Linked DNA regions of Homo sapiens. The protein of the gene in region 3 interacts with the protein of the main gene of each other region in a pairwise test. Each region holds a gene or a part of one and is shown on either strand. Other genes may lie near its edges.

The links.
Region 1: the proteins of SH3GLB1 (region 3) and SYNCRIP interact in binary tests that used the Homo sapiens proteins (3 or more experiments, as listed by UniProt).
Region 2: the proteins of SH3GLB1 (region 3) and TRIM5 interact in binary tests that used the Homo sapiens proteins (3 or more experiments, as listed by UniProt).
Region 4: the proteins of SH3GLB1 (region 3) and UBE2G1 interact in binary tests that used the Homo sapiens proteins (3 or more experiments, as listed by UniProt).
Region 5: the proteins of SH3GLB1 (region 3) and CYBRD1 interact in binary tests that used the Homo sapiens proteins (3 or more experiments, as listed by UniProt).
Region 6: the proteins of SH3GLB1 (region 3) and MAGEA8 interact in binary tests that used the Homo sapiens proteins (3 or more experiments, as listed by UniProt).
Region 7: the proteins of SH3GLB1 (region 3) and FUNDC1 interact in binary tests that used the Homo sapiens proteins (3 or more experiments, as listed by UniProt).

The regions. Positions count from the first base shown.
Region 1 is NC_000006.12:85,615,582-85,619,234, reverse strand, and holds part of SYNCRIP (heterogeneous nuclear ribonucleoprotein Q), read left to right. Parts: intron 1-295; coding exon 296-417; intron 418-3,653. UniProt on the Homo sapiens protein: Heterogenous nuclear ribonucleoprotein (hnRNP) implicated in mRNA processing mechanisms. Component of the CRD-mediated complex that promotes MYC mRNA stability.
Region 2 is NC_000011.10:5,678,164-5,682,611, forward strand, and holds part of TRIM5 (tripartite motif-containing protein 5), read right to left. Parts: intron 2,076-4,448; 5' UTR 2,015-2,075; coding exon 1,598-2,014; intron 1,007-1,597; coding exon 911-1,006; intron 272-910; coding exon 41-271; intron 1-40.
Region 3 is NC_000001.11:86,717,503-86,721,950, reverse strand, and holds part of SH3GLB1 (endophilin-B1), read right to left. Parts: intron 2,445-4,448; coding exon 2,316-2,444; intron 1-2,315. UniProt on the Homo sapiens protein: May be required for normal outer mitochondrial membrane dynamics. Required for coatomer-mediated retrograde transport in certain cells. May recruit other proteins to membranes with high curvature. May promote membrane fusion.
Region 4 is NC_000017.11:4,289,703-4,294,150, reverse strand, and holds part of UBE2G1 (ubiquitin-conjugating enzyme E2 G1), read left to right. Parts: intron 1-4,448. UniProt on the Homo sapiens protein: Accepts ubiquitin from the E1 complex and catalyzes its covalent attachment to other proteins. In vitro catalyzes 'Lys-48'-, as well as 'Lys-63'-linked polyubiquitination. May be involved in degradation of muscle-specific proteins.
Region 5 is NC_000002.12:171,549,350-171,553,797, forward strand, and holds part of CYBRD1 (plasma membrane ascorbate-dependent reductase CYBRD1), read left to right. Parts: intron 1-3,996; coding exon 3,997-4,151; intron 4,152-4,448. UniProt on the Homo sapiens protein: Plasma membrane reductase that uses cytoplasmic ascorbate as an electron donor to reduce extracellular Fe(3+) into Fe(2+).
Region 6 is NC_000023.11:149,878,940-149,883,982, reverse strand, and holds the start of MAGEA8 (melanoma-associated antigen 8), read right to left. Parts: upstream 2,801-5,043; 5' UTR 2,698-2,800; intron 1,616-2,697; exon of another isoform or gene 1,485-1,615; intron 913-1,484; exon of another isoform or gene 634-912; intron 162-633; exon of another isoform or gene 1-161. UniProt on the Homo sapiens protein: Not known, though may play a role in embryonal development and tumor transformation or aspects of tumor progression.
Region 7 is NC_000023.11:44,532,530-44,536,977, forward strand, and holds part of FUNDC1 (FUN14 domain-containing protein 1), read right to left. Parts: intron 1-4,448. UniProt on the Homo sapiens protein: Integral mitochondrial outer-membrane protein that mediates the formation of mitochondria-associated endoplasmic reticulum membranes (MAMs).

The DNA.
Region 1 (3,653 bases), on a different chromosome or scaffold from region 3:
GACTAACAAATTTAGTCATTTTAGAATCTCAAAATAGTTTTACAAATTGGAGGAGACTTTGGAAGTCCATGGAATCCATTCAAACTAAAACCTTTTGGTTTTAGTGATGTTGGCAGTTTTCTAAGTAAAAATGAAAAATAATTGAATATCTGCATCTTTAAATAAAATTATTTGACTGCCTGCATGGGGCTTTCTCTTGTCCTTCCCACATTAATGATAAATGATATTCCAACTTTAAATGAATCATAATTGTATGAAAGTCCTATTTTTATATTGACTTATCTAATTTTTTAAGGCTATGGAAGAAATGAATGGCAAAGACTTGGAGGGAGAAAATATTGAAATTGTTTTTGCCAAGCCACCAGATCAGAAAAGGAAAGAAAGAAAAGCTCAGAGGCAAGCAGCAAAAAATCAAATGTGAGTGAAATTTGTATACTTAAAAATTGTATAAATTTTAATATTTATACACTAATTGGAAAATAACAGGTGTTGATCAGACTTGTTAAATGCATAACATCTCTTTAAAGAAGACTTGAACGTTTGAGAGTCATAGGGAAACACCAGTGATCTAAGTGTTTATTGAACTCTTACTATGAACCATATTTGTGAAAATAATCAGAATTGTAAATAACTGGAATTTTGGTAAATTGGCAAGATGAAAAATCTGTCTAGCTTTTTTTTTGTTTTGTATTGGGTGACAGAGTCTCACTTTGTCACTCAGGCTGGAGTGCAGTGGCACTCTTTCGGCTCACTGGAACCTCCACCTCCCGGGTTCAAGAGATTCTCCTGCCTCAGTCTTCTGAGTAGCTGGGTTACAGGCGCCACCATGCCTGGTAATTTTTGTGTTTTTTTTTTTAGTAGGGGTGGGGTTTCGTCATGTTGGCCAGGTTGGTCTCAAACTCCTGACCTCAGGTGATCCGCCCACCTCTGCCTCCCAAAGTGCTGGGATTACAGCTGTGAGCCACCATGCCTGGCCTATCTCACATATTTTCTTTGTATTTTACAGAATGTTCTTCTGAAAATGTCTTAAATATTAGCTGTCCAAATATCTTAATACATTTTGTTAAAGGGTGGAGAGTTTTTTCTCTGAGAGATAGGAAATACTAAATCTCTATTCATGATAGACTGTTTCTTCACCAGTAGTGCTCATTGCCACCCCAAAAATTTCATGTTCGATGGATGGATTTTGAAAATGAAATGAGTATTAAAATTATAACACAGTAGTGCAATAAGAAAACAAGTAGGTGTGTAATGAGTTATACTAATTAGGGAGACCTTTTTAGAGAATCTGTAAATAGGTATCTGCTTAAGACTGAAGGAAACTTAGTTGGGTAAGAATTGAAGTTAGCTCCTAAAAAGTTAGTTACTGATTTCCTAGAAGAGGGGTAATTGTTCTTGAATGTGAGAGCAATAATCACTGTCAATACTATTCAAGGTTAATTTTCTGTTGATTGCCCTGTTTGGAATTTAAAGGAAGAGGATGCTTCTACATATTTCTGTTACTTCATAATCAGGGAATTGATCAAGTTCTAGTTTCTGCAGTTAATTGTCCAGTTGGACAAGTTGGCAAGCTCTGAACCTCAATTTCTTCAGTTCTAAAATGGGATCAGACAAAATTATGTAATAGCTCTGGATTATGTGATTATCCAAGTGACCCATGCTTGTTCTGGGACCAAAGAAAATATACTTTGTAGGTTTGATGATAGTGTAAATGAAGGAAGACTACAAAAAGAGTTAGTTTTAATGCTCTATATTTCAAACACCTGGATATACTAAACAGTGTAAAATAACTTCTTTTTATTTCTTTCAGAAGACGATATATGGTTAATTTATTAAAGTAGAATGTAAGTATAGGAGATTATATTAGATAATGTGATTAGAGCAGTTACATTTGGTACTTGATAGAGGGAGATACTAAATAGAAGGTGGAGGATGTCAGTATATCTGTTAATATTTGAAAAGGAGTACAAACTAAAAGGGATGATTGCATGTTACTTTCGTACTTTAACTTGCTACAGTCTTTTTTTTTTTTTTTTTAAGTTTTAACTAAGCACGTATTCCTACATAATTCTCACTGTATTCCTGTGAGTTAGGTACTCTATCCCTTAGTTTGAAATGAGGAAACTGAGGCTCAGAAGTCAACTTCCTTGGGGTCATTCACATAGTAAGTAGTGGAGTTGGATTTGAACTAAGGTAGTCTAGTCTCCCATAATTTTCCCTCTTAACCACTATACCAGGATTTCTCATCTCTGTCCTCCTGACATTTTGGGCTGGATAATTCTTGGTCTTGGGGGCTGCCCTGTGCGTTGTAGGACTTTTAGCAGCATCCTTGGCCTCTTCCTGCTAGATGCCAGTAGCACCCCCTTTCTCAGTTATGACCGTCTAAAATGTCCCCCTGGAAAGAGGTGGTGGCAAAATTATCCCTGGTGAGAACTATTTAGAAATAGAAAAGGATGATCTTTCCATCATTTCCTCAAAACAATAAACCAGCAGAGCACATAAAAGGTCTAAGGACCTAGTGAACCGGAATAACATTTTTACGTTAGTCAGTTGGAACAGGGGCCTTTAATAATTCAGGATAAAATAAGGCCGGGCGTGGTGGCTCATGCCTGTAATCCCACCACTTTGGGAGGCTGAGGTGGGCAGATCACTCTAGGCCGAGGTGGGTGGATCATTCGAGGTTAGGAGTTCGAGACCAGCCTGGCCAACATGGTGAAACCCCATCTCTACTAAAAATAAAAATTGGCTAGGTATGGTGGCACATGCCTATAGTCCCAGCTACTCGAGAGGCTGTGGCAGGAGAATCACTTGAACCCAGGAGGTGGAGGTTGCAGTGAGGTGAGATTGCGCCACTGCATTGCAGCCTGGGTGACAGAGCAAGACTGTGTCTCAAATAAATAAATAAATAAAATAACATAACAGGTACGGAATAAAAAACACGAGTAAATTATTCCTTCAAGAGGGATTAATTTCCATATTTCATGGGATTATTGGGCTCAAAATAATCACTAAGTTTTAAGGAATTGTATAAAATTGTACTGTAGGGAACATGAGTTGGAATATTGTAACTTCGTTTAGTCCTTTTACATAGTATGTAAGCATATGCTGATTTGTGTGGTTGCTTTCTAATCACTTTGACAACTAAAGTTATACCTGTTTAGTGGTTAAAGTTCAGCACTATAGTTACGGTGTAGTTTATTTTTGGGAAAGTAGCAGATCTTTTAAATTTTACTTGGATAGCATTATTGTAGAAACAGGAAAACTTTAAGGTCTTTATGCTAATTTACTGTAGTAAACTTTGAACTTCACACATTTTGGTTGTGTGCTTGTCCTACTTGCCATTTTGCTTTTGTAATAAATGTTCTTCAAGTATATTGGAATAGAATCTTAGCAGAAATGCAATTCAAAGTGACAAATTTTTTTTTGAGTCAGAGTCTCGCTCTGTCACCCAGGCTGGAGTGCAGTGATGTGACCTTGGCTTACTGCAGCCTCCGCCACCTGGGTTCAAGCGATTCACCTGCTTCACTCAGCCTCCCGCATAGCTGGGATTACAGGCATGACCGCTCCCAGCCCTAAAGTGGCAAATTTGACAGCTAAATCAATTGTAAAAATTCTGTAACAGGTTTATTGGGAGATTTTGAAGATCATGAAGA
Region 2 (4,448 bases), on a different chromosome or scaffold from region 3:
TTCTTTAATCTCAGTGCTCAGGCTTCTTTCCACTTTTTACCTGAAGCAGCTCCATCACTGACCCCTGCAGCCGATGCTCCAGATCTGAGATGAGCTCTCTCAGGGACTGGGTCTGCTGCACCATCTCAGTTTCAGAGTTCGTAAGGCTTTTCAGAATGTCTTCCTCCTCCTTCTCCAGGTTTTGCAGCTCATTGCTCTCCTCCCAGTCCAGGATGTCTCTCAGTTGCTCAAAATCTGCCAAGACGTTGGTTTTGTCATACTGTATTTGAGTCTTCAGAGATAAGAGAAGAGAAAGGGGCACTCAGTCTACCAGGCAGAGGCTGTTAGCCAGAAAAGGAGCTGTTTCTTTTGGGGAGTTCTCACAAGGAGGGGACATAGTAGCAGGAGAGTAGGTCTTAGGAAAGCTGCCTTTTCCTATTTCTTTTCCTTCATGACATTTTAAAACAATGACCTTGAATGGGTATATTGAGGTTCATCCTGCATCAAAATGGGTTACCTGGATGTAGCTTACCTTTCACACAGCTATGCAGGACACTCATGCCTGCCTGTATTACTTCTCAGCCCAAGCTCAAACTCCCTGCCAAAAGTTGAACACTGAGGACAGAATCATGAGCCATTGCCAAATGTCTTCCCCAAGTAGAGTCACGGACTCAAAAAGTAGCACAAAAATAGAATGCAGGATTCACTAGCCATCCTCACCAGAGAGATCCTTCATGTAAAGAGCTCCCTACTGTGTTCACTGTGACATATTCACTCCTCAGCCACCACACCCCATCAGGGAAAGGATGAAGAGGACTAATCAAATGACTTCTGGACTTATCAAATGTCAGGGAATAAAGAGGAAGAAAGCTCCTTCCCCTGGTCCTGCCCAGATTTCTAGCTAACTCCTTCGGGAACCACATCCTCTTGCCTTCCAGGAAGCTTTCTCTTCTCTGATGTCAGCTTCTAACTCTTCAGCTTCCTGCTGCTTCTGCCTCAGCATCTCCAGAGCTGCCTGGAGCTTCACCTGTGAGAAAGGAATCACACCATAGTCAAGCTATGAGGTTTTCCAGCACCTAGATAGAGTATAAACATGAAATAAATCAGGTTGATCTCAGAAGAAACAAATTTGCAGAAACTGTGAGAATGGCAATGAGAATCCATGACTTGGAAGAAAACTTACATTGGTGAATGTGCTCCCTACATCTCAGGTAATAGACCTCCCCATCTCCTCACCATGAGTAGACTGATTCTTTTTGTCCTAGAAGAAAAAACTAATCCTGCAGCAAGGAAAAAACTTACATCTCAACCCACTCCTGTTACTCTCCTGCTGAAAGGGGTAATCAGAGCTTTTCTTGGACACCAAATCTCTACCCATCTAACCCAAGGTACAAAATATTTACTCCCGGCCAGGAATATATACTCTAGGATTATTCTCCTGTAATTGGGTGAAATGCAAAAAACCATCCTTAAAGCCTCAGAAGTTAAGCATAGCATGAAAAAAATAATCCCGGGTCTCAGGTCTATCATGACAAGGCAGTTAATGTCAAAGGCAAAGTGAAAATTTTCCATCTGGTCCCATTTTCTGCCCTCTCTTCCTTCCATCCCAGTCTCTTACTTGGTACTCCCGGGCAACCTCCTCTGTGAGGAACGTGTGGTGACCACGGTGCTCCTGAGACCGCTCACAAAGCCAGCAAATGACCTTCCCGTCCTCCTGACAGAAGAGTAGAAGTTTCTCTCCATGGCGTGCACAATGATCAACTTTCTGCCCCTCTGGGCTCAACTTGACCTCCCTGAGCTTCTCCACTATGTTGGCTACATGCCGATTAGGCCGTATGTTCTCAGGCTGGTAACTGATCCGGCACACAGGGCAGCTACTCTCTCCTTTGTCTAGCATGGACTTCTTGTGGTTTGCAGTGAGGCATGCTTGGCAGAAGCTGTGGCCGCAGTCCAGGCTCAGGGGTTGTGTCAGGAGTTCCAGGCAGATGGGGCAGGTCACCTCCTCCTTTACATTAACCAGGATTCCAGAAGCCATAGTAGCTATTCCACTGCTCCTGCCTGTCCTGGCTGCTGAGGTTCCTCTTGTTCACAGATCCCTGCATGATTGGGAAGGTTAAAATGGGACCAAGTAAGAAAGGTAGAAATAGAAAGGATATTGATTGTGCACAATTAGAAAATGGGCAAGATGAAAATAATTAAGGACAAAAAAAGGGGAGAAATAAGAAAAGGTGTTTGGTTACCTGGTAATAAGGGCTTTTCATAATCACCTTAAATACTTTACTGCCAGTTCATGTCATATGACAAATTCTGTTCTTATCTGTGCATTGGTTATCATTTTTCTTTACTTTCAATGAATAGAAAACAGACTGAGGTCTTTTCTACCAAGATCTTTGTGTGACCCATCATCTCTCCTGGCTTTTCTTTCCCACGCCAAAACACATCCTCAGTATTAAAATCACCAAACAGCTTATGCCTCAGGGCTTTCACATTTGCTCTTCTCTCAGCATGAAATGTTTCTCTGATGTTAGTACGATTTTATTAAATTCTCTCCTTACATGTTATATTATCAAAAATACCTGCTCTGACTACCTTATGTGCAGTGTAACAAATCTCACCATGCACTGTACGTTTGCAATGATTGCTCTTATTATCAGCAGAGTGAATGACTGTTTCATCAAATGTATAAATAGACATAATAAGTGATTTACAAAAATTATTTATCTTCAGTATGGTGACCTGAGATGACCTCGTATTCAGGGTCCTCTTTCACTGGCCTCTTTGCTACTCTTTTGGTTAATCAATGACAAATGGAGATAACAGCATATATCCAATTAATACCCAGAGCAATTGGGGTGTGGAAGTAGAGGAATCCACAACAGCTGGGAGGTTCTGAGGAGTCTCATCCTGAAAGTTTGCCAAGGACATTTATTGGAGCCTAAAGGTGTAGACATGGTGTAGAGGGTGATGATAGAGAAATACTCAGTGGACCACACATGTTGGATACTTGAAAACTAGAAGCACAGAGGCAGTGGATATCAGTCTTGAGAGAGAAGTCTCAAAATATTAGATGAGATGATTCTGTTCCCGGAACAAACGGAGGGTCGGCTGCTGCTTCTTGCGGCCCAATAACGAGATGCAGATTTACTGGGAAAGAAGCGAATTTTTATTTCTGCGTACAGGGAGAAGGCCTAGAAAATATCTCCAGACCAACTCAAAATTACAAAGTTTTCCAGAGCTTATATACCTTCTAAGCTATACGTCTACGTATAGGTGTGCATTATTCATCTAAAAACATAAGTGATTAACTTCTTCAAATCTATAACTAAGGTCTGAGTTTTAAGACCTTCCTCTGGTGCCTCAGTAAATTTACCTAATCTAGATGGGTCCGGGTGCTGGGGTGATTACCCTTATCTTGTCTCTCCTGCTAAATCATTAAGGTTTGCGGAGTTCCTTCAGACCCTCAATAAACTTGTTTGTGGAGGCCTGGGAGTTCCTTCAGACCCCCATAAAACTTGTTTAATCCTAAACAGGTCCTAATCGATTCCTTCGTTATCTTGTCATGCTTCAAGGCCCAGGAAAGGCCTGGGCAAAACTCTCAGTGGGCTTCTGTTACATTCCAGCCTTTGTATAAGGGCACTGGCTCTATCAGCTTTTAATATTTTTTTTTCTTTTTTGAGACGGAGTCTTGCTCTGTCGCCCAGGCTGGAGTGCAATGGCACAATCTCGGCTCACCACAACCTCTGCCTCCCAGGTTCCAGTGACTCCTCTGCCCCAGCCTCCCGAGCAGCTGGGACCACAGGCACGCACCACCACACCCGGCTAATTTTTGTATTTTTGGTACAGATGGGGTTTCACCATATTGGCCAGTCTGGTCTCCAACTCCTGACCTTGTGATCCACCTGCCTCGGCCTCCTAAAGTGCTGGGATTACAGGCGTGAGCCACCGTGCCCGGCTTCAGCTTTTAATATTTAACTTAACCAGACGGGTGTGGTGGCTCACGCTTGTAATCCTAGTACTTTGGGAGGCCAAGGCAGGCGGATCACCTGAGGCTGGGAGTTCAAGACCAGCCTGGCCAACATGGTGAAATTCTGTCTCTACTAAAAATACAAAATGAGCTGAGCTTGGTGACAGGTGCCTGTAATCCCAGCTACTTGGGTATTCTTTCCACATGCTTCTCCTGCTCTTCGTATCTCACCTAAGCTCTGCTTTTGGGGGGCAGATACGGCCCACGGAGAGGGAGGAGCAAGGTTAATGATTTTTAAGAAAATCCAGTAGTTCCCTGAGTCTGGACTTGGTGCCCTAGTAGAGGCAAACAGATGCTGTCACCAGGGAAGCCCTGATGAAATGACTGGGAAAGTTATTTTTCTTAACGTTTTTCTTTATTCCCTTTATGTATAGACAAAGTTGCTTAAGAAGAAGCCAGACTGCCCAGCATGGTCCAGATCTTGACCCCTGACCAGATCCAAGGG
Region 3 (4,448 bases):
AATACAGCATAACAACTATTTACACAGCATTTACATTCAGATGATTTAAAGTACGAGGGAGGATGTGCATAGGTTATATGCAAACACTATGCCATTTTATATGACACCTGAGTATCCATGGATTTTGGTATCCTCAGGGTGGCGGGCCTGGATCCAATCCCCCATGGATATCGAGGGGTGACTGTGGTTATACTTATAAAAGTATAATGCTTCCAAGAGATCAAGTCACAATTTGTCCTGTTTCTACATCCTTGCAGTTATCATCTGAAGTATCTATAAGTAATAGTTCATAGTGATATCTTAAGTTAAAAAATCCATGCTTTTGCAATACATATACTCTGATACTTAAATAGGGCAAGTACAGTACAAAGTAGAGTAGAAAGAAAGGAAGCCCCAAGATCAGGGTTCCACTCCTAGTTTTACTTCTAATAAGCTTTAGCTCTAAGGATCTTAATCCCTTCATGTTAGGATAAGCTTTGATCTGACTGATAAGGAAGGTAATACAGATAGTAGTTAAGAGCTCCGTCACTGGATACAGACAGATCTTCATTTGAATTACTATACTAGCTGTGACTGTGGATTAATTATTTAACTTCTCCAAACCTGTTTCCTTGTCTTTAAAATGAAGGTAATATAATTTATCTTAAAAGCAGGATATAAATGAGAATTAATATGTAAATATATATACTATATAATGCTTAGCCCATGCCTGTGATACTCAATTTTTAGTATTAATTACTAATAAGGTAATAGGTTCACAAAGCCCAATTCTAATAACCAGGGTACATTCACTAGAATTACTAGAGGTGCAAACAGATTAAGCAGATTTAAAAGGGAAGAAAATCTAGAAGCCTTTACTAATGTTCATGCTCTGCTAAAACCTTCTTCAGCCTGGTGAAGGAAGGGGCTGCTGGGTTCCTTTCACATACCTTTATGATCCCAGCATCTAACTGAGCTTGGCACAAGTAGGCAATAAAACATCTGTTTAATGTATAACATTTTTCTAAAAATTAACAGTAAAATTCAGAAATAATTTTATTTTGAAGTTCTAAGCATTTTCAAACTTAAAAATTAGATTTTGAAGAACACAATGTAGAAGTTTCAAAGTTGTGTACCTAAAAAAGCCTGTCAATGGATTAGTGGCATTCAACAATATTTAGGTTATTTCTTTCTGACATAAAGATAACTACTAAAGCTTAAAATTCATTTAATCCTAGAATTTATAAACCATTCTGTAAATCAGAACTATGTGTAGAAATTAATTTAATCTACCTACCATTTCATATCCAAAGACCAGTATCTTGCAGATGTATAAAGAGAATTATTATTAGACATAAACAACAGGAAAAGAAGCTACTGAAATCTGTAACAGTCTCATGTTATGAGAAAATTAGAGTGACAATAAAGATGTGTATGTAACTTTGAGCTTCAGGGCTATACATTTAAAGTCTGTACAGCAACTAATAAAGCGAGTGTAACTAAACCACGGCTATAGAAAATTTGAAATACATAAGAGAAAAACAGAAATGAAATGTAATCCAAATATCCAGAGATAACAATTGTTAATATTTTTTGGTTACTGACATTACTGCAAAATTATAACAAAAGCACTGATTTGTTCAAGAACTACGTGCCAAGTACCTTTAACATAAAATAAGCCCTAAGAAAGCTTTTTTAAAAATGAAGAGACATATGCAAACAATAATTGCAATATCACAAGTATTATAACATAGGTATTGTAAGATCACTGGGAGAACAAGTGAAGAATTCATTAAACTTTTTAGAACTAAAAAAGATGTGAATTCTCTGAATAACTAAATATATGCTTGAATATATTAAATATTACATTTAACTGTATATATTTGCCTATATTTCTCACTTCATCAAAAATTTTTAACATAAATTTGAAGTTAAAACCAATTCTACTACTATGTTTTTTTTTTTTTTTTTTTTTTGAGACAGAGTCTCGTTCTGTGGCCCAGGCTGGAGTGCAGTGGTGTGATCTTGGCTCACTGCAAGCTCCACGTCCAAGGTTCACGCCATTCTCCTGCCTCAGCCTCCCAAGTAGCTGGGACTACAGGTGTCTGCCACCACACCCAGCTAATTTTTTGTTATTTTTAGTAGAGACGGGGTTTCACCATGTTAGCCAGGATAGTCTCGATCTCCTGACCTCATGATCCGCCCACCTCAACCACCCAAAGTGCTGGGATTACAGGTGTGAGCCACTGCACCCGGCCTACTAATATGTTAATGACATCTCTAATAAATCTAAACATAAAGATATCCCTTATTAGAACTTTTTGCATTTCACTTACCATAAGCTGTTCCTGGGCCAAACTCAGTCCCTGCATCAATCATATATTGTCCCAAAAGTTCTGGGTTGTTTATACGACTTGGAGCTTTTCTATCCAGTTTCTCATAAACAAATTCTTCTATCCTGGCATCTAGGAGAAAGGTTAAAATTACCAATGATTTCTAAAAAGCAAAACTAATTAGAAGATTGTTTTTTTCCCCCATCAGCAGCCATTTATCATCTCCTAAAGTTAGCATTCATTCAAGCACATATCTTAATAAATAATTTTTTAAATTTTATGTTAGACTATTATATAACTAAAAAATTATATTTTAGAAATTTGATAAAATATCTTGGCACAAAAGCATTTTAAAATAAAATAAAATTATTATTTGAGTATTCTACAAGATTTTAAGTTCCAGAAAAGGACTGATTAATTCACTTAATATTTATTGAAGGTGTCTTTGCCCTGTTTGTAGCATTTTAACTCTAATTTTTACTCTGAATGTACATTCATAATTTCAAAATCAGGATTTCTGGCTAGGAAAATACAGATATAAAGTACCTGGAAGAACCAAAGACTTACATCTGACAGCTTTAGCATGAGCATTTGCTCTCTCTTTTTCTTGCCTAGAGTCTAAATATAGACACAGGCGCTTAAGGCATAGAACAATCCAGGCTTGGAATAGTCTACAGACAGATCAGCAATATGATGCCTTGGCTTTAGTTTATGTTTAAAGTATACAAGTATATCTCTGAGCATGCATTCACTCAAAAGATTTCATCATTAAAAATAAGTTTAAAATACGAAAGGTTAAAGCAATAATAGAACATTAGAATAAATGGAAAGGGGAAAAAAACAAAAGCTGAATAAACACTTGGTTAGCAAAATGCTTAAGACCAAAGATATTAACATTTACAATGCTGTCCAACCTAGAGGTATTTCAGGACAAGTGAAAAAATGGCTTAAGTTTCCAGAAACAACGATTAAGCATAAATTGAAGCTAAGTCAAATAGGTTCCCTCTAAGTACCTCACATAGATTCCTACGCATGCGGAAGTTTCACACAGTGCACTGAAAATTTAAAAAATGAGCTGAACCAGTAACAGAAACATTTCAGGAGTTGGTAAAAGGCTTAGTTATAATACATAAAATAGAGTATAGCAATGATACTTGCTTTTGTGGTAGATTCTAGTACAAAATCAGAAGTTTTAAAGCAGAAATTAAATACCTTTAAATAGTTAAAACCAAAAAGAGCTTTTTAAAACATAACCATTTAGAAGATACTAGTTAAATTTCAGAACTTCATTTTGGCCCGGTGTGGTGGTACATGCCTGTAATCCCAGCACTTTGGGAGGCCAAGGCAGGTAGACCACTTGATGTCAGGAGTTTGAGACCAGCCTGGCTGACATGGTGAAACCCCGTCTCTACTAAAAAAAAAAATACAAAAATTAGCTAGGTGTGGTAGCGCATGCCTGTAATCCCAACTACTCGGGAAGCTGAGGCAGGACAATCACTTGAACCCAGGAGGCAGATCTTGCAGTAAGCAGAGATTGTGCCACTGCACTCCAGCCCAGGTGAAAGAGTGAGACTCTGTCTCAAAAAAAAAAAAAAACAGCTTTGTGTTTTGACTCTGATTCTTAATTTTGACTGCTTTTCCACCTATCTGGCCAAAAGTTTAAAATGGAATCTTATGCTGACTTCGTTCAGTTAATAAAATATTTGGAATACTAATAAATGTTTAATTTCAATAGGTTATAATAAAATCTTAAATATGCAGGCAACTCTGCTACAATGTAATATGTATTTCTGCATAACGTATTTTTGAAAAACCCATTTCCAGAAGATCATACATTGAAAACAACATAGGAATTACAAGAAAAGGAGTGTTAGGTTTGGCTGCTCAAAACCTATGTAACTTAATAACCAGAGCACAGGCTGGGCATGGTGGCTCACACGTGTAATCCCAGCGCTTTGGGAGGCTGAGGCGGGCAGATTACCTGAGGTCGGGAGTTCGAGACCAGCCTGGCCAACATGGAGAAACCCTGTCTCTACTAAAAATACAAAAATTAGCCGGGTATGGTGGTGGACACCTGTAATCCCAGCTACTCTCAGCAGGCAGAGGCAGGAAAATCGCTTGAACCCAGGAGGTGGA
Region 4 (4,448 bases), on a different chromosome or scaffold from region 3:
AGCCACGCGCCTGGTCTTAGATGGAATTTTGAATGAAGATGATGCTTGGCTTGAACTTCATTCTTTAGGCTGTGAGGACTCATTTAATTCATGACATTTAAAGCTGTACATATTGTCATGACAAAAAGAGAAAATGACAAAAAATAAAAAAGCTATGTAATAGGTTTCTCTTATATTTTCCTTCTTGAAAGATTACACTCATAGAAGATTGGAAGGGGAAGTCAGAGAGATAGCAGGGAGGTAGAGCATTTTAGCAATAATTTGAGTAAAAAACAATAAAAACTTGAACTAAGAATAGTGTTGCAGGAAGGGTAATTTAGTTTCTTTGACTTGACTGCCAGAGGTGAATGGTAAAGGAGAAGTAAGAGTTTAGGATTGACTGGCCATTTACAAAAATAATTATAGAGTGAAAACCATAATGAAATACCACTTTTTACCCACTAGGATTCCTATAATCAAAAAGATAATAACAAATGTCAATGAGGAAGTAGAGAAATTAGAACTCCCATGCACTACTGGCAAGAAGGTAAATGGTGCGGGTGTTTGGAGAAGAGCCTGGCAGTCCTCAAAAGGTTAAGCATAGTTACCATAGGACCCTGCACTTCCATCCTAGGAACCTAACCAAGAAAACTGAAACACATGTCCAGAAAAACTCGAACACGAGTGTTCACAGCAGCATTTATTATTCATAACAGCCAAAAAGTAGAAACAGCCCAAATGTCTATCAGCTGATAAATAGAAAAACAAAATGTGGACCCATATAACGGAATATTATTTGGCAATAAAAAGAAATGAATTACATGATATTGTTTTCTAAAGAAAAGAAAGAAATGAAGTAGTGATACTTGCTACAACATAGATGAACCTTGGAAACATTATATTAAGTGAACAAAGTCAGTCGTAAAAGGTGACATAGTGTACGATTCCCTTTATATGAAATGTCAAGAATAGACAAATCCATAGAGACCGAAAGTAGGTTAGTGGTTCCCTACTGCTGGAGGGGAGGTGGGGGGGATTGAGGAATGGTTGCTAACTGGTACTGCGTTTCATTGTAGGGTGAAAAAATACTCTAAAATTGATTGTGGTATTGATTGTACAACTCTGTAGACATACTAGACAGAAACCATTAAATCGTGCTTTTCAAATAGGTGAATTGTATAGTAGGTGAGTTATAGAGATGTTATAAAATTATTATAGGGGAATAGTTTTATGTGACTGACCTTACATATATTCAGCTTTTCTTGAGGTATACTTGCTACACCCAGTTAGATAATTAGTTAAACCAGTCCAGGGTTCAGCAATGAGCTTAAGGGCCTTGGAAGTTACTGTATCAGGATGATAGATAACATGATAATGAATGGGTTAGTTTTCCTACGGAAAATATAGTTAATGTTGGAGATTAGGATAACATCAAAAGTCAAATTAAGGAAAATGAAAACTAGAAAGTGACTGAGAGAATGTTCAAGAACCAGGGGAAAACAAGAGTACCACAGATGCCAGGGGAGGAAAATGTATCCAGCAAAGTGTTGTCACAGTATTAGTTGTCTTGGCCCAGAGGGGTGACTTCAGGTAGCTGAAAGTACCCAGGAGAATAAATATGCTATCCAGACCACTTGTGGACACAGTTGTAGCATCCTGCTAGGGAGAAGCCAGTTTCTAGGAGAATAAAGGAATACCTGAGTAGTAAGTAAATAGAGAAGATGAGGGTAAATCAGTTTTTCAGAATTTTAGGTGCATGGCCTCAAGAAAAAGGAGGTAGCTAGAAGTATATGCATTGTTTAGGCAGCTTAGTTTTGTTTGTTTGGTTTTGGTTTGGGTTTTTTTTTTTTTTTTTTTGAGACAGAGTCTCACTCTGTCGCCCAGGCTGGAGTGCAGTGGCTCACTGCAACCTCCGCCTCCCAGGTTCAAGCAATTCACCTGCCTCAGCCTCCCGAGTAGCTGGGATTACAGGTGCGTGCCACCAAGCCCGGCTAATTCTTGTATTTTTATTAGAGATGGGTTCACCATGTTGGCCAGGCTGGTCTCGACCTCAGGTGATCCGCCCGCCTCAGCCTCCCAAAGTGCTGGGATTACAGGCCAGCCATACATTACAGTGGGCCGAGCCACTGTGCCCGGCCCAGGTAGCTTAGTTTCATCTCTAATGAACACTGAAATGAAAGAAAAAAGTAACAAGCAAAAATTATATGGGGAAAACTAAGAAACACCGTGGCAAGAGGAAAGTAAACATTAAGTACATAACTGGCTAAAGGATAAGAACAGACATTTCACAAAAGAGGAAGGACATACAGGTTATATCCATGGAAAGTTGTCACCCCAAAAGCATTTAGAAAAGTGAATTAAACCAGATGTTATATATGAAATTTAAACAGCATCAATAAAGGAAAATGTTCATCCTGAGGAGGCAATGAAATGGCCATCTCAGATTGCTGATGGCAGTATAAATTGATACAATCCTTTAAAATATGGTTTGATAATAGGTATTAAGCCTAAAAATCTTCTCATTCTAAAATAAATGGTATGTTTAAAATGACATGAGAAGGTTAAAAATGTAAAGATCCTGGATTAGTGATAACTTGATTTTTTTTAAAAAGGAAAATGGATCTTATATAGTGGTGGTAGAATTCTGTACACATATTTAATAGCATGTTTTTAAAGAAAAATGACTTGGAAAAAATCCTTATTACACAGTAAGTACAGAAAACATTGTAAAATAGTAATACTCTATGAAATTTTTATGCTGAATTTTGTAGTGTTACAAGTTTTGATGTTATTCCTTTTTTTTTTTTTTTTTTGAGATGGAGTTTCGCCCGTTGCCCAGGCTAGACTGCAGTGGTGTGATGTTGGCTCATGGCAACCTCTGCCTCCCGGCTTCAAGCAATTCTCCTGCCCCAGCCTCCCAAGTAGCTGGGATTACAGGCATGTGCCACAACAGCCAGCTAATTTTGTATTTTTAGTAGAGATGGGATTTCTCCATGTTGGCCAGGCTGGCCTCAAACTCCTGACCGCAGGTGATCTGCCCTCCTCGGCCTCCCAAACTGTTGGGATTACAGGCGTGAGCCACCACGCCCGGCCCTCGGTGTTATTCTGGCCCTGATTCTATTTTAGTAAATAGATTTTACTAGCAGATAGGGATGGGTTGGGAAGAGGAACCTTAATTATAGAAAACCTCATACATAAAACATTGAAGGCACGGGCCTTGCCTGTCATATATTCACTGCTGTACTTCTCTGTCAGATGTGTGCCTGGCATGCAGTAGGCATTGAAAAAGTATTTGTCGGCCAGCGCAGGGGCTGTTTCCTGTAATCCCAGTTTGGGACCAGCCTGGGCAATATAGTAAGACTATATCTCTACCAAAAAAAAAAAAAAAAAAAGCCAGGAATGGTGCCATGTGCCTATGGTCCCAACTACTTGGGAGGCTGAGGTGGGAGGATCACTAGAGCCCAGGAGTTTGAGACCAGCCTGGGCAACATAGTGAGACCCCCATCTCTACCAAAAAAAAAAAAAAAGTCAGGTTAGCCAGGCATCATGCCATGTGCCCATGGTCCCAGCTACTTGGAGGGCTGAGGCAGGAGGATCGTTTGAGCCTGGGAGGTCAAGGCTGCATAGAGCTGTGATCATACCACTACACTCCAGCCTGGGTGACAAAGTGAGGCCCTGTCTCAAAAAACCAAAACAGCAACAACAGACAACACCAAAAAATAAGAATTTGTTGAATTAAGAGAGCAATGATATTGATTGGTAGATACAAACTTTGATTCTGATTACCCAGAGTTCATAACAGCAGAAATACTGATGTTATGAAACGAAAAATAAGATTTAGCATTATATTTATTCACAAATTTGTTAGACTATATAGGATAAGTTAGGAATGAAATATACATAAACATTGTCACTACTCAAATTCCTTTCTAAAATTTCTTCCTCAAAGTATGATTTTTAAAAAAATTTACGGTGGGTAAATGTTACCATAAAAGATTAGTTTCACAATAGGGATTATTTATATGATGTATAAATGAATTAGTGGATTAGGACCTTTTTTTAATGAATAAGTAATATTTTACTTTTTTGCTAAACTGCTTAAATAGTTATGTCAATACATGTCTCCTAAAAATAAGGATGTTTTCTTATTAAATGTGTTTATAGAAAGGAGGCCTCTTGAGTGTCGTATATGTTGATGAGTTTTCATTGGCAGTATGGCATGTTTGTTTTGTGAATTTGAATATACTCCTTTCTCAGAAAATACAATTTTGGCTTTATATGATTGTAAAAATATATTTCTTAGGAATAGTCTCTGGGCCTTTGACTATTACCAATTTAAGTCGGTAAGTTAGTGGGGAAACTAGGAGGCCATTACATAGAAACTCAGTTGCTAGTTTTTGGAAAAATATGCTTTCTGCAAATGAAGAACACATCCAATAGTTGCTATTTATTCATTTATTATATTATAC
Region 5 (4,448 bases), on a different chromosome or scaffold from region 3:
CTGGAATGGCAGACATGAGCCACTGTGCCCAGCCAACATGGAAACTTTAAAAGTAAACTTTTATTGTCTATTTCTAATTATAAAAGTAATACACATTAATGTTAAAGTTTATAAGATGTAGAAAGATATAAAGAAAAAACCCTGGCTATTCTGGGCACACTGCCTGTGGGGTATTCCTGTTCCACAAGGAGTAGAACCTCTGCTGCTGCTACAAATTAAATAAAAAAACAAAAAATGAAAAAACCCACTGATACTGCCATAATCTAGAGATATCATTAGCTTTTGGCTTATTCCCTTTAGGCTTTTATTATGCCTATGCAAATGTAGATATAGATATTTAATTTTTAAACATAATTGGGTCATACTGTATTTTCACTTTCATCTCTAAGTAATAACTTTTTATGAAAGTTTATTTTTCCTTAGCTCTTAAGAACTTCCACTGTGTTGAAGAACAGCTTCCTGTAGGTGATGATTCCTAAACACTGGGGCACTTTGTTTGCATATAGTTGGCATTTAGTGTGTTTGTAGACTATATATAATGGAATATTCCACTACCTTCTCTTTTGAGGGTTTTCCAGACTGTTTATCCATATCTCTAGAATAATTTGAGTGAATCAACAGCAGTCATTTTCAAACTTCAACATACGTAAGAATCGTCTGGGCAGTTTGTTAAAAATACAGATTCCTGGGCCCTAATCCAGAAATTGGATTTAGCAGGTCAGAATGTGGCCCAGGCATCTTTTTATTTTTTATTTTTTTGTTGTTGTTGTTTTTGTTCTTGAGACAGAGCTTTGCTCTGTCACCCAGGCTGAAGTGCACAATGTCAGCTCACTGCAACCTCCGCCATCCGGGTTCAAGCAATTCTCTTGCTTCAGCCTCCAGAGTAGCTGGGACTACAGGCATGTGCCACCATGCCTGGCTAGTTTTTGTATTTTTAGTAGAGATGGGGTTTTGACATGTTGGCCAGGCTGGTCTTAAAATCCTGATCTCAAGTGATCCTCCTGCCTCGGCCTCCCAAAGTGCTGGGATTACAGCAGGCATCCCTTTAAATGCATGCCTTCTGTGAACAGCACTTCCAGTACTGACTTAGAGAGACAAAAGGTCTTATAATTTTCGGTCCACTAGGTTATAAATTATCACCTTCACTTGTAAGGTAGTAAGATTAAGATAGTTAAAAGGAAATAATGATTATTTATAAATTATAAGTTATTATAAATTATAAATATGCATTATTGCAGCATTCAGAACACTTTTAATCAAAGTTAAGCATTCTGTAATGTTTTTCTTTTCCTTTTAAATGTAATTTTCTTTTGTTGCAAAAAATGTTTAATGGTGAAAGTCAGATTTAGGGTAGTTAAGTTGCTCAGGGATCCTGTAAGCAAATTTCTGACCTCCTACCTGCTTAGACTGTTGAGCCCTACAGGATTGTAAGAGACACACATGACAAATTATGGAGGAAATGAGAGAAAACAGAAAGAATCTTAGGAATGAAAATAGGAGAGCAGGAATGAGAAATATATGTTTCTATGGGTAAGCCACAGAAAAGATATGATGATTTATGGAGATATATTTGTGCTATATCCCTGAGCCCCATTTTCTTTTCCTTTCTTTTCTTTTTTCTTTCTTAGACAGGGTCTCACTCTGTCACCCAGGCTGGAGTGCAATGGCACAATCTCAGCTCACTGCAACCTCCATCTCCAGGACTCAAGCAATCCTCCTGCCTCAGCATCCACAGTAGCTGGGACCACAGACGTGCACCACCATGCCCAGCTAATTTTTTGTAGAGATGGGGTTTCGCCATGTTGCCCGGGCTTGTCTTGAACTCCTGGACTCAAGTGATCTTCCCACCTTGGCCTCCCAAAGTGCTGGGATTACAGGCGTGAGGCACCACACTCAGCCCCCATTTTCATATAGAAAGCACAACATGGACATCAGGAAGCTTGCCCTTTGATACTAATAGAATCACTGAAGTTCACTGAAGAAGATTTAGGAATATTCTGAACCACCAAGAGGGAACCCTCTGAACCATTTCTAATATATTCAGGCATTTTGGTTATTAACTAAATAATAAAATATGCAAACCAACCTATCAAATGCATTTGTTATTACTTTTTAAATATAAATTACAGAATTTATTGTATTAGGATATACTTCAGAAAACAACAGTTAATCTTGGCTATTCTTGGCCCTTTGATCTATGTAAATTTTAGAATCAATGCATCAAATTCCACCAAAAATCTATTAGGATTTTATTTAATCTATAGATGAATTTGAGAACCGACATCTGTATAATACAAGTCTTCCAACTCATTATCCTGAGCCTGTTTTTTTAGCCTTCTCCAAAATATTGCAAAGCTTTATATTTTCTTTGTAGAGTTGTTGTCTCCAACTTATTGCTAGCTCCTTGCTATTAAAAATGGTATCATTAAAAATTAATTCACTTGTTGCCTCTTTACAAAAAGTGCAACTGATCTCAAGTATAAATTTATACCTAGCAAACTTGATAAACTTATGTTAGTAATTAATCTCAAGATTCTTTTGGATTGTGTTTTATAATCTTATGTGATTAATAAGTTTTGTTTCTTTTTCTATCATCATTTTTTTTTCTTGCTTAACTCAGTAGCTGAGACTTTCAGAAAAATGCTGAATAGGAATAGGTGATAAGGGATATAAGACAAATCCCTTCTAGATCTGAGTCATGTCTTGGAAGAGAGCTACTCTGAAATGCCTATAGACCATAAGCAGACTGTGTGTGAGCAAGAAATATACTTTTATATGTTAAGCTCTTGAAAATGGAGCCTGTTAGTTCCTATAGCATGTTCTGTCCTAATATAATCAGATTAAAATAATCATCTTCCATTCCTAGTTTGTTAAAACATCTCATACATGACTGTTGAATCCTACCAATGTTTTTCACCATCTGTTTTGATGATTATATGATTTTTCCTCTGCAGTCTGTTAAAGTGACAAATCATACAAATTGTTTTGTTATCAGTTTCCATTTATTACTACTTGGTATTACACATGAGCTGATTCTCAGTGTGAATTAGGGCGTTGGACCCCTCCCCCTGCCTCCCTTCTTCTGTCTCCCCATTAGCCCTTGGATCTCAATCAAGAAAGCTGAACAGTGATGTTAGTGCTTTCTCCCCACTCTCCTCTCTTTTCATAATTGTTTTGCTAGGATGGTAGATCCTAAATAGGCATCTGAAAAAAAATGTTCCTTTAAACTCAGTAATTCAGTAACCACAAAGTCATCTTTATCTTGTTGAAGAGAGGATACTTGATGGGCAAACGTGTGGGGTGACAAAACCGTGAAAGCGCAACAGACTTCAGTTTATATAGGAACCTTGCTGTCTTCTCTGCAAAGAGGTATCCCACTAGCGATTTCATTATCAAGGAAATGAAGACACCTTTTCTGCAGAATTCATTTCTTTCTCATAAAACAAAAATCAACTTCATTCCACATAGCTTTTTAGGTTGAACTGACTAAATTCTGTGTCCTAATGTACTCGGTTTTAGTGATTTAAAAAATCTTTTCCTTCCCTTCCTACTTAGCAACCTTAGGAGATTGGTAAAAACAAACAAGTAAGTACCAGAATGTTCACTATAGTCGGATTAAGGATAGCAAAAACCAAACAGAAACATCCATAGAGAACTGTATAAATAAATTGTTATAGCCTTAGGATATTAGCCATTAAAAGGAATAAATTAGGTAAATGTATAGGTATGAAAAAGATTTCCAAGATATTCTGTTAAGGGAAAAAAGCAAGATGCAGAACAATATGTATAGGGATAATAAATTTTCTGGAATGATCCATGAGAAGGTGATAAAAGGGGTTACATTAGGTAGTGGAACTGGAGCGAGGAAACTTCATTTTCTACCCTTTGGTTCTATATGAAAGGTTTTGTCATATTACACATATTGCTTTTTAAATAATTTAAAATTAGTTTAGAACTTAAAATTAAATGATAACCTTTGCACTTTTTGGTGTTTAGCTTCTTTCAGGTTTTTCAGTCTTTCTGCTTCCATGGGCTCCGCTTTCTCTCCGAGCATTTCTCATGCCCATACATGTTTATTCTGGAATTGTCATCTTTGGAACAGTGATTGCAACAGCACTTATGGGATTGACAGAGAAACTGATTTTTTCCCTGTAAGTTGCATAGTCTTCTTAATTGTAATACTTAAGCCACAAAATGTTAAATACTTGTTCACTGGGAAAATGTAATAAAAATATAACAAAATTTTTTAGATATTAAAATTAAAAAATATTTTAAAGAATTTGTTATATCATATAGGTAATATGATATTACTAAAAGTTTAGAAGGACCAAAAAGTCTGACAAATTGTATTACTCTTATGAAACAACTATTGAAGTTATACATTCCCTTTCAATCTTGTTGATATGCATGTTTTTATATTAATTGTAATTATAGTGTACATACATTTT
Region 6 (5,043 bases), on a different chromosome or scaffold from region 3:
AACTGTGGGGTTCCTGCTGTTCTGATGCCAGAGGGGCCTCTGGTATACATACAGGGGAAACACCACCTCAGCTTGACTGCTACTACTGCCTGGGCCTCTTATGCTCTGTGATTGAAGATACTGCCTCAGACCAAGACCTCACAGCCTGGTTCCTGGAGCTCCTAGAAGATAAATCGAGGGGAACTCAGGCTGCAGACTGCAAGCACAGCCCCAGCACCCCAGTGCTGTCAGGAGGGTGAGCCTGACTCTGTGAGCTCCCCACTATTTTGTGTGGATGGTCCTTTCTGTGCTCATTCAGGGCCCTCATCTTTCTCCTGGCAGGGCCTGGATCTGGCCCTTTTGCTGGCCTGAGAAACTTTCAGATCAAGAGTTTATATCCCTGATATGGAAGACAAGGATATGAAGGGACCCACATCTGGCCCCACATGCCCAAGGCCTCCTGGGAAAAAAGCAATAGCTACACAAAATGCAATGGGGCCCACGTGTCCTGTCCTAGGGTGAGAAAAAAGCAATAGCTACACAAAATACATTGGGGCCCATGTGTCCTGGGCTGACCTGAGGCCACTTCCTTAATCCAAGGACCTATCTCCAGGAGACACTGGAAGAGCAAATGAGGGGATTCCATCCACCCACCTTTCCCTGCACTTCCCATGGCTGACAGAAGGTGCAGGGTGGGGTTCGGTCCTGTGTGTTTGGTGAGTGGTGTCCTCTGAGTCCCTGACTCCTGGCAGGGCCTTGGACCCCCGCTCTGCTGACCTGAATGCAGTGCCCTCAGACCAAGGCCTTCTTCTCCCTGAGACCAATGAGTCTGGTATAACACAGGGGCCTCAGCTGATAGTCCTGCTCATGCTCTCAGGGGTGACAAAAGAGGCCGGGCAGATTTCTGTTGGGCCCCCATCTGTTTTTTGCCTGCTAGGAGAACCATCGAGGGTACCCTCAATCTTCCCTCAGTGTTGTCACCTAGACTCTTGGTAGATTCTTGGACCACTGAGTCTGTTGCCCACATGGGGGTCCCTGTTTTGTCCTGAGTTGCCCTCTGAGAACAAGGTCCTCACTTCCCTGAGATCTCAAGAGAGAAATGAGGAGCCACCACATCTGATGACCACTGGGTGGGGTGTCCAGGGGTGACACTAGGATCTGTCCCTACTTGTTCTTGAGTGGTGGGTTCTAAGGTCTTCAGGGGGTTATTCATCTTTCCCCTGATGGAGCCCGCCCTTCCTCAACCCACAACACCCTGATATGAGCAGACATCTCCCCTTACCACCAAGACCTTATCTTCCTGCGTTTCCCCAACTTCCTGCCCACAGTACAGATGAGATCTCCACTTAGGGCCACCCTTGATCGGGTTCCCCCAGAGATAATAACCAAAGTTAGCCAGACTTTGTGGGGTCCCTTCTTTCCAGGCCAGGAGTACCCCCATTCATCACAAAGTGAGCACATCTTGGGTCCTGCAGATCCTGTGACCCCGTCCCTCTGTTGAACAGGTGTGGCTCCCTCTGCTGAGCTGAGGACGCCCTTCAGACCCAGGTTGCTACCTCCCTGAGACCCAGGAGGCAGAAGTAAGGAGGCACTACATGGACAACCCTGCATGGGATTCCCACGGCTGACAGAAGTAGTAGGTTTCATGGGGTCTTTCTCTGTCTGGGTGTCATCCAGGTATTCATATTTACTCCACGACAAGGCATGGCCCTTTCCTTCCTGCTGAACCGTGGATGTGTCTTGCATGCCAAGGCCACCATCTCCTTGAGGCCCCCTACCAGAAAGTGGGGGGGCCACATCCCTTCCCCACTGTCCTGCCTTGGGTGCCCAGACCTGAGAGTGGGAGCAGGTTTCCTAGGCCATGATGGGAGGTCTGCTGAGTCCTCCTTAAGGGCTCTGGGGCACCTCTCTCCAGTGATCTGAGACTCCACTCCTCAGACCACAGCTGTCTCCTTTCTGACACCCTGAAAATGCAGCAAGGATGCGCCACATGCAGCCACAGATCCTGGGACTTCCCAAGGCTGAGATCTCCACTGATCTGGAGTCCAAGGACCCCTGAGTCCTCCCTCTTCTTCTTCTCCTTGACTCCTGGCAGGGCTGTTCACCACCCCCCTGCTGACTTGAGTTTCAGTCCCTCGGATTCCTGAGGCCAAATGTGGAGGCCCCTCAGTCTCAGACAGGTAGGGTGGGCCCCCTGTCCTGGGGTCCTGGGTCCCCTCGGGCCTCCTCATCTCCCAGCATAGCCTGGGCCCTCCCTCTGCTCCTCTTGAGTCCGTGCTCATGAAGCCCCTTTGCTGCATCAGCCCCGGATGCGGACGTCAGAATCAGCGAGCCCGGCCGCCATGCCCGGCCGCCATGCCCGGCCGCCATGCCCGGCCGCCATGCCCGGCCGCCATGCCCGGCCGCCATGCCTAGGGCTTCCCAGGGCTGACAGTAGGGGCAGAGATGTGCTCTGTGGAGCCTCAGCCCTCCCTCAGGGTCCTGCCCTTGATGCCTGGCAGAACCTGGGCCCTGCCCTCTGCTAACCAGCCCTGCTCTGGTCACACCAAGCTCTCACTCCAGATTCCCCTGGGGCTTAAGCGCAGGGCTGGCGAGGGGTGGCCCAGCCAGACAAGTCTGCCCCCTGGTGGTCCAGGGCTGGCAGCAGGGGCGGCGCTAGATTATTTTGGGTCCTATATGAGGGGTGGGGGCCTCCTCAGTCCTCCCTCAGGGTCTCACCTTGCCTCCTCACAGACCCTGAGCCCGCTTCCCTCAGCCGATCTCAAGCCGACCCCTCAGAACCAGGCCCTCGCTTCTCTCTGATCCCCGCGGCCACGTCAGTGGCGTCACATCCGTCCACCCAGGGCTCACCTGGGTGGACAACAGGGGCGGAACCGGATTCTAGTGGGGCGGGGGATGAGGGAGGAGCGGTTCAGTCATCCCTCAAGGTTCTCACTTTGAGATCTGGCAGAGCCTGGAGCTCCGTACTCTGCTGATGGTGTCTGCTTCCCTCAGACCAAGGTTCTGATTCCGAGTCCCCTGAGGTGGCAGTGGGGGGAAGGGTGTGGTGGGGGGACAAGGCTGCTGGGGTCTTTCAGGGCTGACATGAGGGTCTGAGCTGAATTATGTGGCCCCTCTATGTGGTGTGGGTGGACCCTCAGTCCTCACTCAGGAGGGTCCTCTTCTTGACTCTTGGCTCTTTTAGGAGATACTCTGTTTCTGTCACCTCTGAGCATTTGCACAGCTGCACCCCTTGCAGAGAATGGCTGCGGGTCCCAGGCCAGATTCTCCCTGTGGGTTTGCAGCACCTAAGATTGTAGTGACCTCTGGGAGAAGAGGCACACCTTCCCACGGGGGCTCTTCCCCAGCTAGAAGAGGATTTTGCAAAACTTTTGTACTAAATGATTTATTTTTACACTGAAGAAACTGAGTAGCTGCAATAAATTTGTGGAAGTCCTGAGTTTTGAAGTTACCTAACAATTCCTATTCCACTTTAGTGATTTTCATAATTTAATTCGCATTCGTATAGTAAGAAACGAATTTTAAATCTATGCCAATTGTATATGTGCATTATATTTATGTTTATATGCATAAACACATATGTATGTATATGTTTATATTATATATGTGTAATTATATGAATGTATGTGTATATATCTTTACATATATTTATACATATATGTATGTCGACTATACGTACTTATTTTATCAAACAATATCTACTCATACAATGTGTGATTCACTCATACTATTCTATTTCTAGTTCATTATATATATTTGATTAAAATAATAGTATTTTGGAAGGTAGTCCTAACCTACTCTTTGTTTCTAGTTGTTATTAGCAGAATTCTGGAGCCATGGTGTCTCAATCAATCCAATTTTCCTGGTGTCCTGATATTACCCCTGGGCTACTGGCTTCGTGTTTTGAGGTGCAGACTCGGATCCTACATTGATGTGGGGTGGTCCTTTAAAACTTTTCCTGCAACTCACCCTGTCGTCTGCAGTGGCTGCAGACCTCCTCAACCTCCCTGCCTCTCCAACTGCCCAGAACACAAGTACCAGTTCAACACAGTTTTTTCCCCAGGGTTTTCTATGTTTTGTTGTTTAGACTTTGTTGCTGATATTGTTGTTTTATTTTTCTTTTTCCCTTCTATATTTTTACACAGTTGATTTTGGGAGTAGAGCACAGCAGCCTGGGCTTGATTGTCACTTTGGCAGCTACAGGTAGGCATTAACTGTTTATTTAATTTAAGTAAGATTTACACCTTTGCTGTATTCTATTCCTCATCAGTGAACATCATATACTACTCCATTTATTTGGGAATTTTTTCTCTGAATCTGTCAGCAAACTTGTACAGTTGCTTCTGTAAATGTCTTGCATATTTTGGTTAGGCTTCTTCTTCTTTATATTTTGGATTTAAATGCTGTTGGGGATGGTATATTTTTCATTTTATGTTCTAAGTTGCTCATCTGTGACAAGTCTCTTGTATTCGCTGCAGTGGTCTTTGTATGCTGTCTTCTGAAGTCTCTTATTCATTTGAATGTTCCATGTGTCTCTTCCTTTGAATTTTCTTGATGGTCATATTGTGAAAAATATGATCTATTTCTTTTCAATCTTCATACCTCTTTTTCATCTTGATATCCATAGCTCTCTTTTTCATTTCAGCATTCACTGCAGCTGTGAACGGTAGCAGTGAAAGCATACATCAATGACTTGCTCCTGACGAGAATGGGAATGCTTCTAACATTTCACATTCAAGTATGTTTCCTGTCAGTTTTAGAAAATTAAAGTGCCTTTTAATCTTCATTTGCTAAAAATGTTAATTTGAAAATATGATAAAATTCATTTCAGAGGCTTTTTCTGTATTTTTATTCCTTGCATACGAGCTGCTTGTTCATTAGTCCACTGTTGTGTTGAATATACAATTATCTATTTAGGACATTTGCTGCAATATGAGTGAACACTTGGCTCATATGTTCTTTTTATAAAGGCTGGATGTCTTTATCTTTTTTTCCCCCCCAATGCAGGAGAAGGAGCCTTGGAGAATTCGTTGAATAATTGCCCGTATTTTGGGATTATTTGGA
Region 7 (4,448 bases), on a different chromosome or scaffold from region 3:
TGTGTGTGTGTGTGTATATATATATATATTTTTTTTTTTTGAGACGGAGTTTCGCTTTTGTCACCCAGGCTGGCGTGCAATGACATGATCTCGGCTCACTGCAACCTCTGCCTCCCAGGTTCAAATGATCCTCCTGCCTCAGCCTCCCGAGTAGCTGGGATTACAGGCATGCACCACCATGCCCGGCTAATTTTGTACTTTTAGTAGAGATGGGGTTTCACCTTGTTGGCCAGGCTTGTCTCGAACTTCTGACCTCAGGCGATCCGCCCGCCTCGGCCTCCCAAAGTGCTGGGATTACAGGCGTGAGCCACCATGCCTGGCCTAAATATGTATATTTTTGCTTTGTCTTAGACAAGTGTGCAAAGCTGTATATAAATGGCTAGTCACTGCAGAGTTGTTTGTAAAGCTGAAAAAATAAACTGCTAGATGAACATTCTGTGTAGATGCTAAGAATTGCTTGTAGGACAGACTATTTGGATCAACACTCTGAACCTGCAGTCTATTAAGGCAGTCACTTCCAACTAGCATCTGGTGATCTAAGGAAAACTTTCAGTCTCTGCCACTTTCTAAGAAGCTTCTATCTTCGAATTAGAGAAGACATTCAACTATACCATCTCTCACAAGCCTTCTTGGTCTATAGACATGCAATTAAAATGGTTTCCAAGAATGTTAGTGCTCCAGTAATATGATGTGTTTCTAAAAGTCTTATTGAAGGGACGGTCTTCTAACCATTGCATTGGTTGAAACAATGGGTTGGAGGAGGACAAGTCACACATAATAAATACATCCCACCAATCTCTTAAAAAAACAGTATCCAAGGCCAGGCGCAGTGGCTCACGCCTGCAATCCCAGCACTTTGGGAGGCCGAGGCAGGCAGATCATGAGGTCAGGAGATCGAGACCATCCTGGCTAACACAATGAAACCCTGTCTCTACTAAAAATACAAAAATTAGCTGGGTGTGGTGGCAGGCGCCTGTAGTCCCAGCTACTCGGGAGGCTGAGGCAGGAGAATGGTGCAAACCCGGGAGGCAGAGCTTGCAGTGAGCCGAGATCGTGCCACTGCACTCCAGCCTGGGTGACAGAGCAAGACTCCGTCTCAAAAAAAAAAAAAAAAAAAAAACAACAAAACAACAACAACAAAAAAATAGTATCCAAGTATTAGCCATTAAAAATTTTTAAAAAAGATACTGCTCACTGCATCCATGAAGGAAAAGCAAGAAACAGAATGCTAAAGTCACATTAAAAGAACAACAGCCGGGCATGGTGGCTCACATTTGTAATCCCAGCACTTTGGGAGACCGAGGTGGGTGGATCGCTTGAGCTCAGGAGTTCAAGACCAGCCTGGGCAACATAGCAAAACTCCATCTCTACTAAAAATACAAAAAATTAGCCAGGCATGGTGGTGCATGCCTGTAGTCCCAGCTACTTGGGAGGCTGGCGTGAAGAAATCACCTGAGCCCGGGAGGTCAAGGCTGCAGTGAGCCAAGATCGCACCACTGCACTCCAGCCCAGGTGAACAGAGTGAGACTCTGTCTCAAAAAAAAAACAAAAAACAAAAACAACAAAAAAAACTTGTTGAAGTTGAAGAAATCTCCCAGAAAATAGACCAAAAAGATAGAAGTGGAAAATTGAAAAGATTATTAGTGTTCTACCAAATCTAAGAAAGAAAAAAAAAAAATTATTAGGCCAAGCAGTCAGTGGCTCACACCTGTAATCCCAACATTTTGGGAGGCCAAGGCAGGAGGATTGCTTGAGACCAGCCTGGGCAACATAGCAAGACCTCATCTCTATTTAAAAAAAATTAAAAATAAGTCTAAAACTGTAAAATAAATAAAGAAAGAAAAATTAGACAACTGGTCCAGGAGATCCATATAACTGGAACTACAGAAAAAAAGATGGGAAAATTAAAGAGCAGGATATCATTAACTAAATAAATATAAAGAAAATTTCCCCAAACTGAAAGGGCCCCTTGAGTTTCCAGCACAGTGGATGAAAATAGGCCCACAGTAAGGCACATCACTGGGAAAAATCAGAATACTGAGGACAAAAGAAAATCCTATAAGCATTAACTGAAAGGAAAAAAAAAAACCCACACATGTAAAGGTTCAGAAATTAGAATTACTTTAAACTTTTAACAGCAACACTGGAAGTCAGAAGACAATGGAGCAATACCTAAACACAGCTATTAATAAATTATCAAACAAATGTGAGGATAAAATGAAGAAATTTTCAGACATGCAAAGTCTCAAAAACTATAGTTCCCATTCTCATTTTCTACGAAAGCTATTGGAGGATGTGTCCACCAAAACAAGAGAATACATCAAGACATAGGATAGGCCAGGTGCAGTGGCTTACACCTGTAATCCCAACACTTTGGGAGGCCAAGGCGGGTGGAATGCTTGAGCCCAGGAGTTCGAGACCAGCCTGGGCAACATAGCAAGACCTCCCTATTATACAAAAATACAAAAATTAGCGGGCATGTGGCACACGCCTGTAATCCCAGCTACTTGGGAGGCTGAGGCAGGAGGATCCCTTGAGCCCAGGAGGCAGAGTTTGTAGTGAGTGAGATTGTACCACTGCACTCTAGCCTGGGCAACAGAGCAAGACTGTCTCAAAAAACAAACAAACAAACAAAAGACATAACATACAAGAAACAACCCAAAACAAAAAGGGAATATCCAGAAGGTATTGAAGAGAGATCCCAGGGTGAGAGCCGTATACCAGGCCTAGAAAGCAAACAGGACAGATGACTCTGGGACCAAGTTTGCCCAGACGGTTAAACTGATGAACTATTTGATACATACGACAATGAAAGGTGATTTACACAACTAGTAGTTGTCTAAAGAAATAATACTGGGCCAGGTGCGGTGGCTCACACCTGTAATCCCAGAACTTTGGGAGGCCGAGGCGGGCAGATCATGAGGTCAGGAGATCGAGATCATCCTGGCTAACAGAGCAAAACCCTGTCTCTACCAAAAAAATACAAAAAAGTTAGCCGGGCTTGGTGGCGGGCGCCTGTTGTCCCAGCTACTTGAGAGGCCGAGGCAGGAGAGTGGCGTGACCCTGGGAGGCGGAGCTTGCAGTGAGCTGAGATCGCACCACTGCACTCCAGCCTGGGTGACAGAGCAAGACTCTGTCTCAAAAAAAAAAAAAAAAAAAAAAAGAAAGAATCCTGGCTGGGCGCGGTGGCTCACGCCTGTAATCCCAGCACTTTGGGAGGCCAAGGCGGGTGGATCGCCTGAGGTCAGGAGTTCGAGACCAGCCTGGCCAACATGGTGAAACCCCATCTCTACTAAAAATACAAAAATTAGCCAGGCATGGTGGCAGGTGCCTGTAATCCCAGCTACTTCGGAGGCTGAGGAAAGAGAATCGCTTGAACCCAGGAGGCGGAGGTTGCAGTGAGCCGAGATTGTGCCATTGCACTCCAACCTAGGCAACATGAGCAAAACTCTTGTCTAAAAAAAAAAAAAAAGAAGAAGAAAAGAAATAATCCCGGCCGCCCGTGGTGGCTCACGCCTGTAATCCTGTAATCCCAGCACTTTGGGAGGCCGAGGCGGGTGGATCAATAGGTCAAGAGTTCTAGACCAGCCTGGCCAAGATGGTGAAACCCCATCTCTACTAAAAATACAAAAATTAGCGGGGTGCTGTGGCAGGCAGCTGTAGTCTATAATCCCAGCTACTTGGGAGGCTGAGGCAGGAAAATCACTTGAATCCGGGAGGTGGAAGTTGCAGTGAGCCAAGATTGCGCCACTGCACTCTAGCCTGGGCGACAGAGCGAGACTCTGTCTCGAAAAAAAAAAAAAAAAAATCCCAAACTTCCTAGTAGAAATAATGGCCAAAACCTTCCCAAACATGATTAAAGACATAAATTCACAGGCTCAAGAAGTTCAGTGAACTCCAAGTAATCAATCTCAGTGAACTCCATATAATGAATGATCTAACACAATTATGAAAAAAGGGAAGTAACTACACTCAGACGATTGAGGGAGAGGGAAGAAAGCATTCAGGTATGTGAGATTTGGGGAAGTATAGGGAAAACAAAACAGGTCAATAAATGACAGCTAAATTTTCCCATTCCATAATGGGAAGCCAATAGTTCACACCTAAAACTGAAAGATCAAGAAATGTCCAATTAACTTGTTTAGGGAAAAAGAGATTACTACCTTAAGAATCAGTTAAGAGTGCAAACTGGATGTCTCAAGGGATGGAAAAATGGGGGTAGTGAGAGAGGTGGAGGATTACTCTAATCTGTAACAAGCCTTGCACAAGTACTTGGCCCTTTGAATTATAAGGATGTATAACTCCAAAAAATTAAAACGAAGAGACTGTGTACTTTAAGATGGCAGTGTAATAAATATCTATTGGAAAACACTTGATATTGTTACTAGAAAAGCTTTAAGTTCTAAATAAACTAATATTTACCTTTAAATATAAGAAAGGTCATAAAA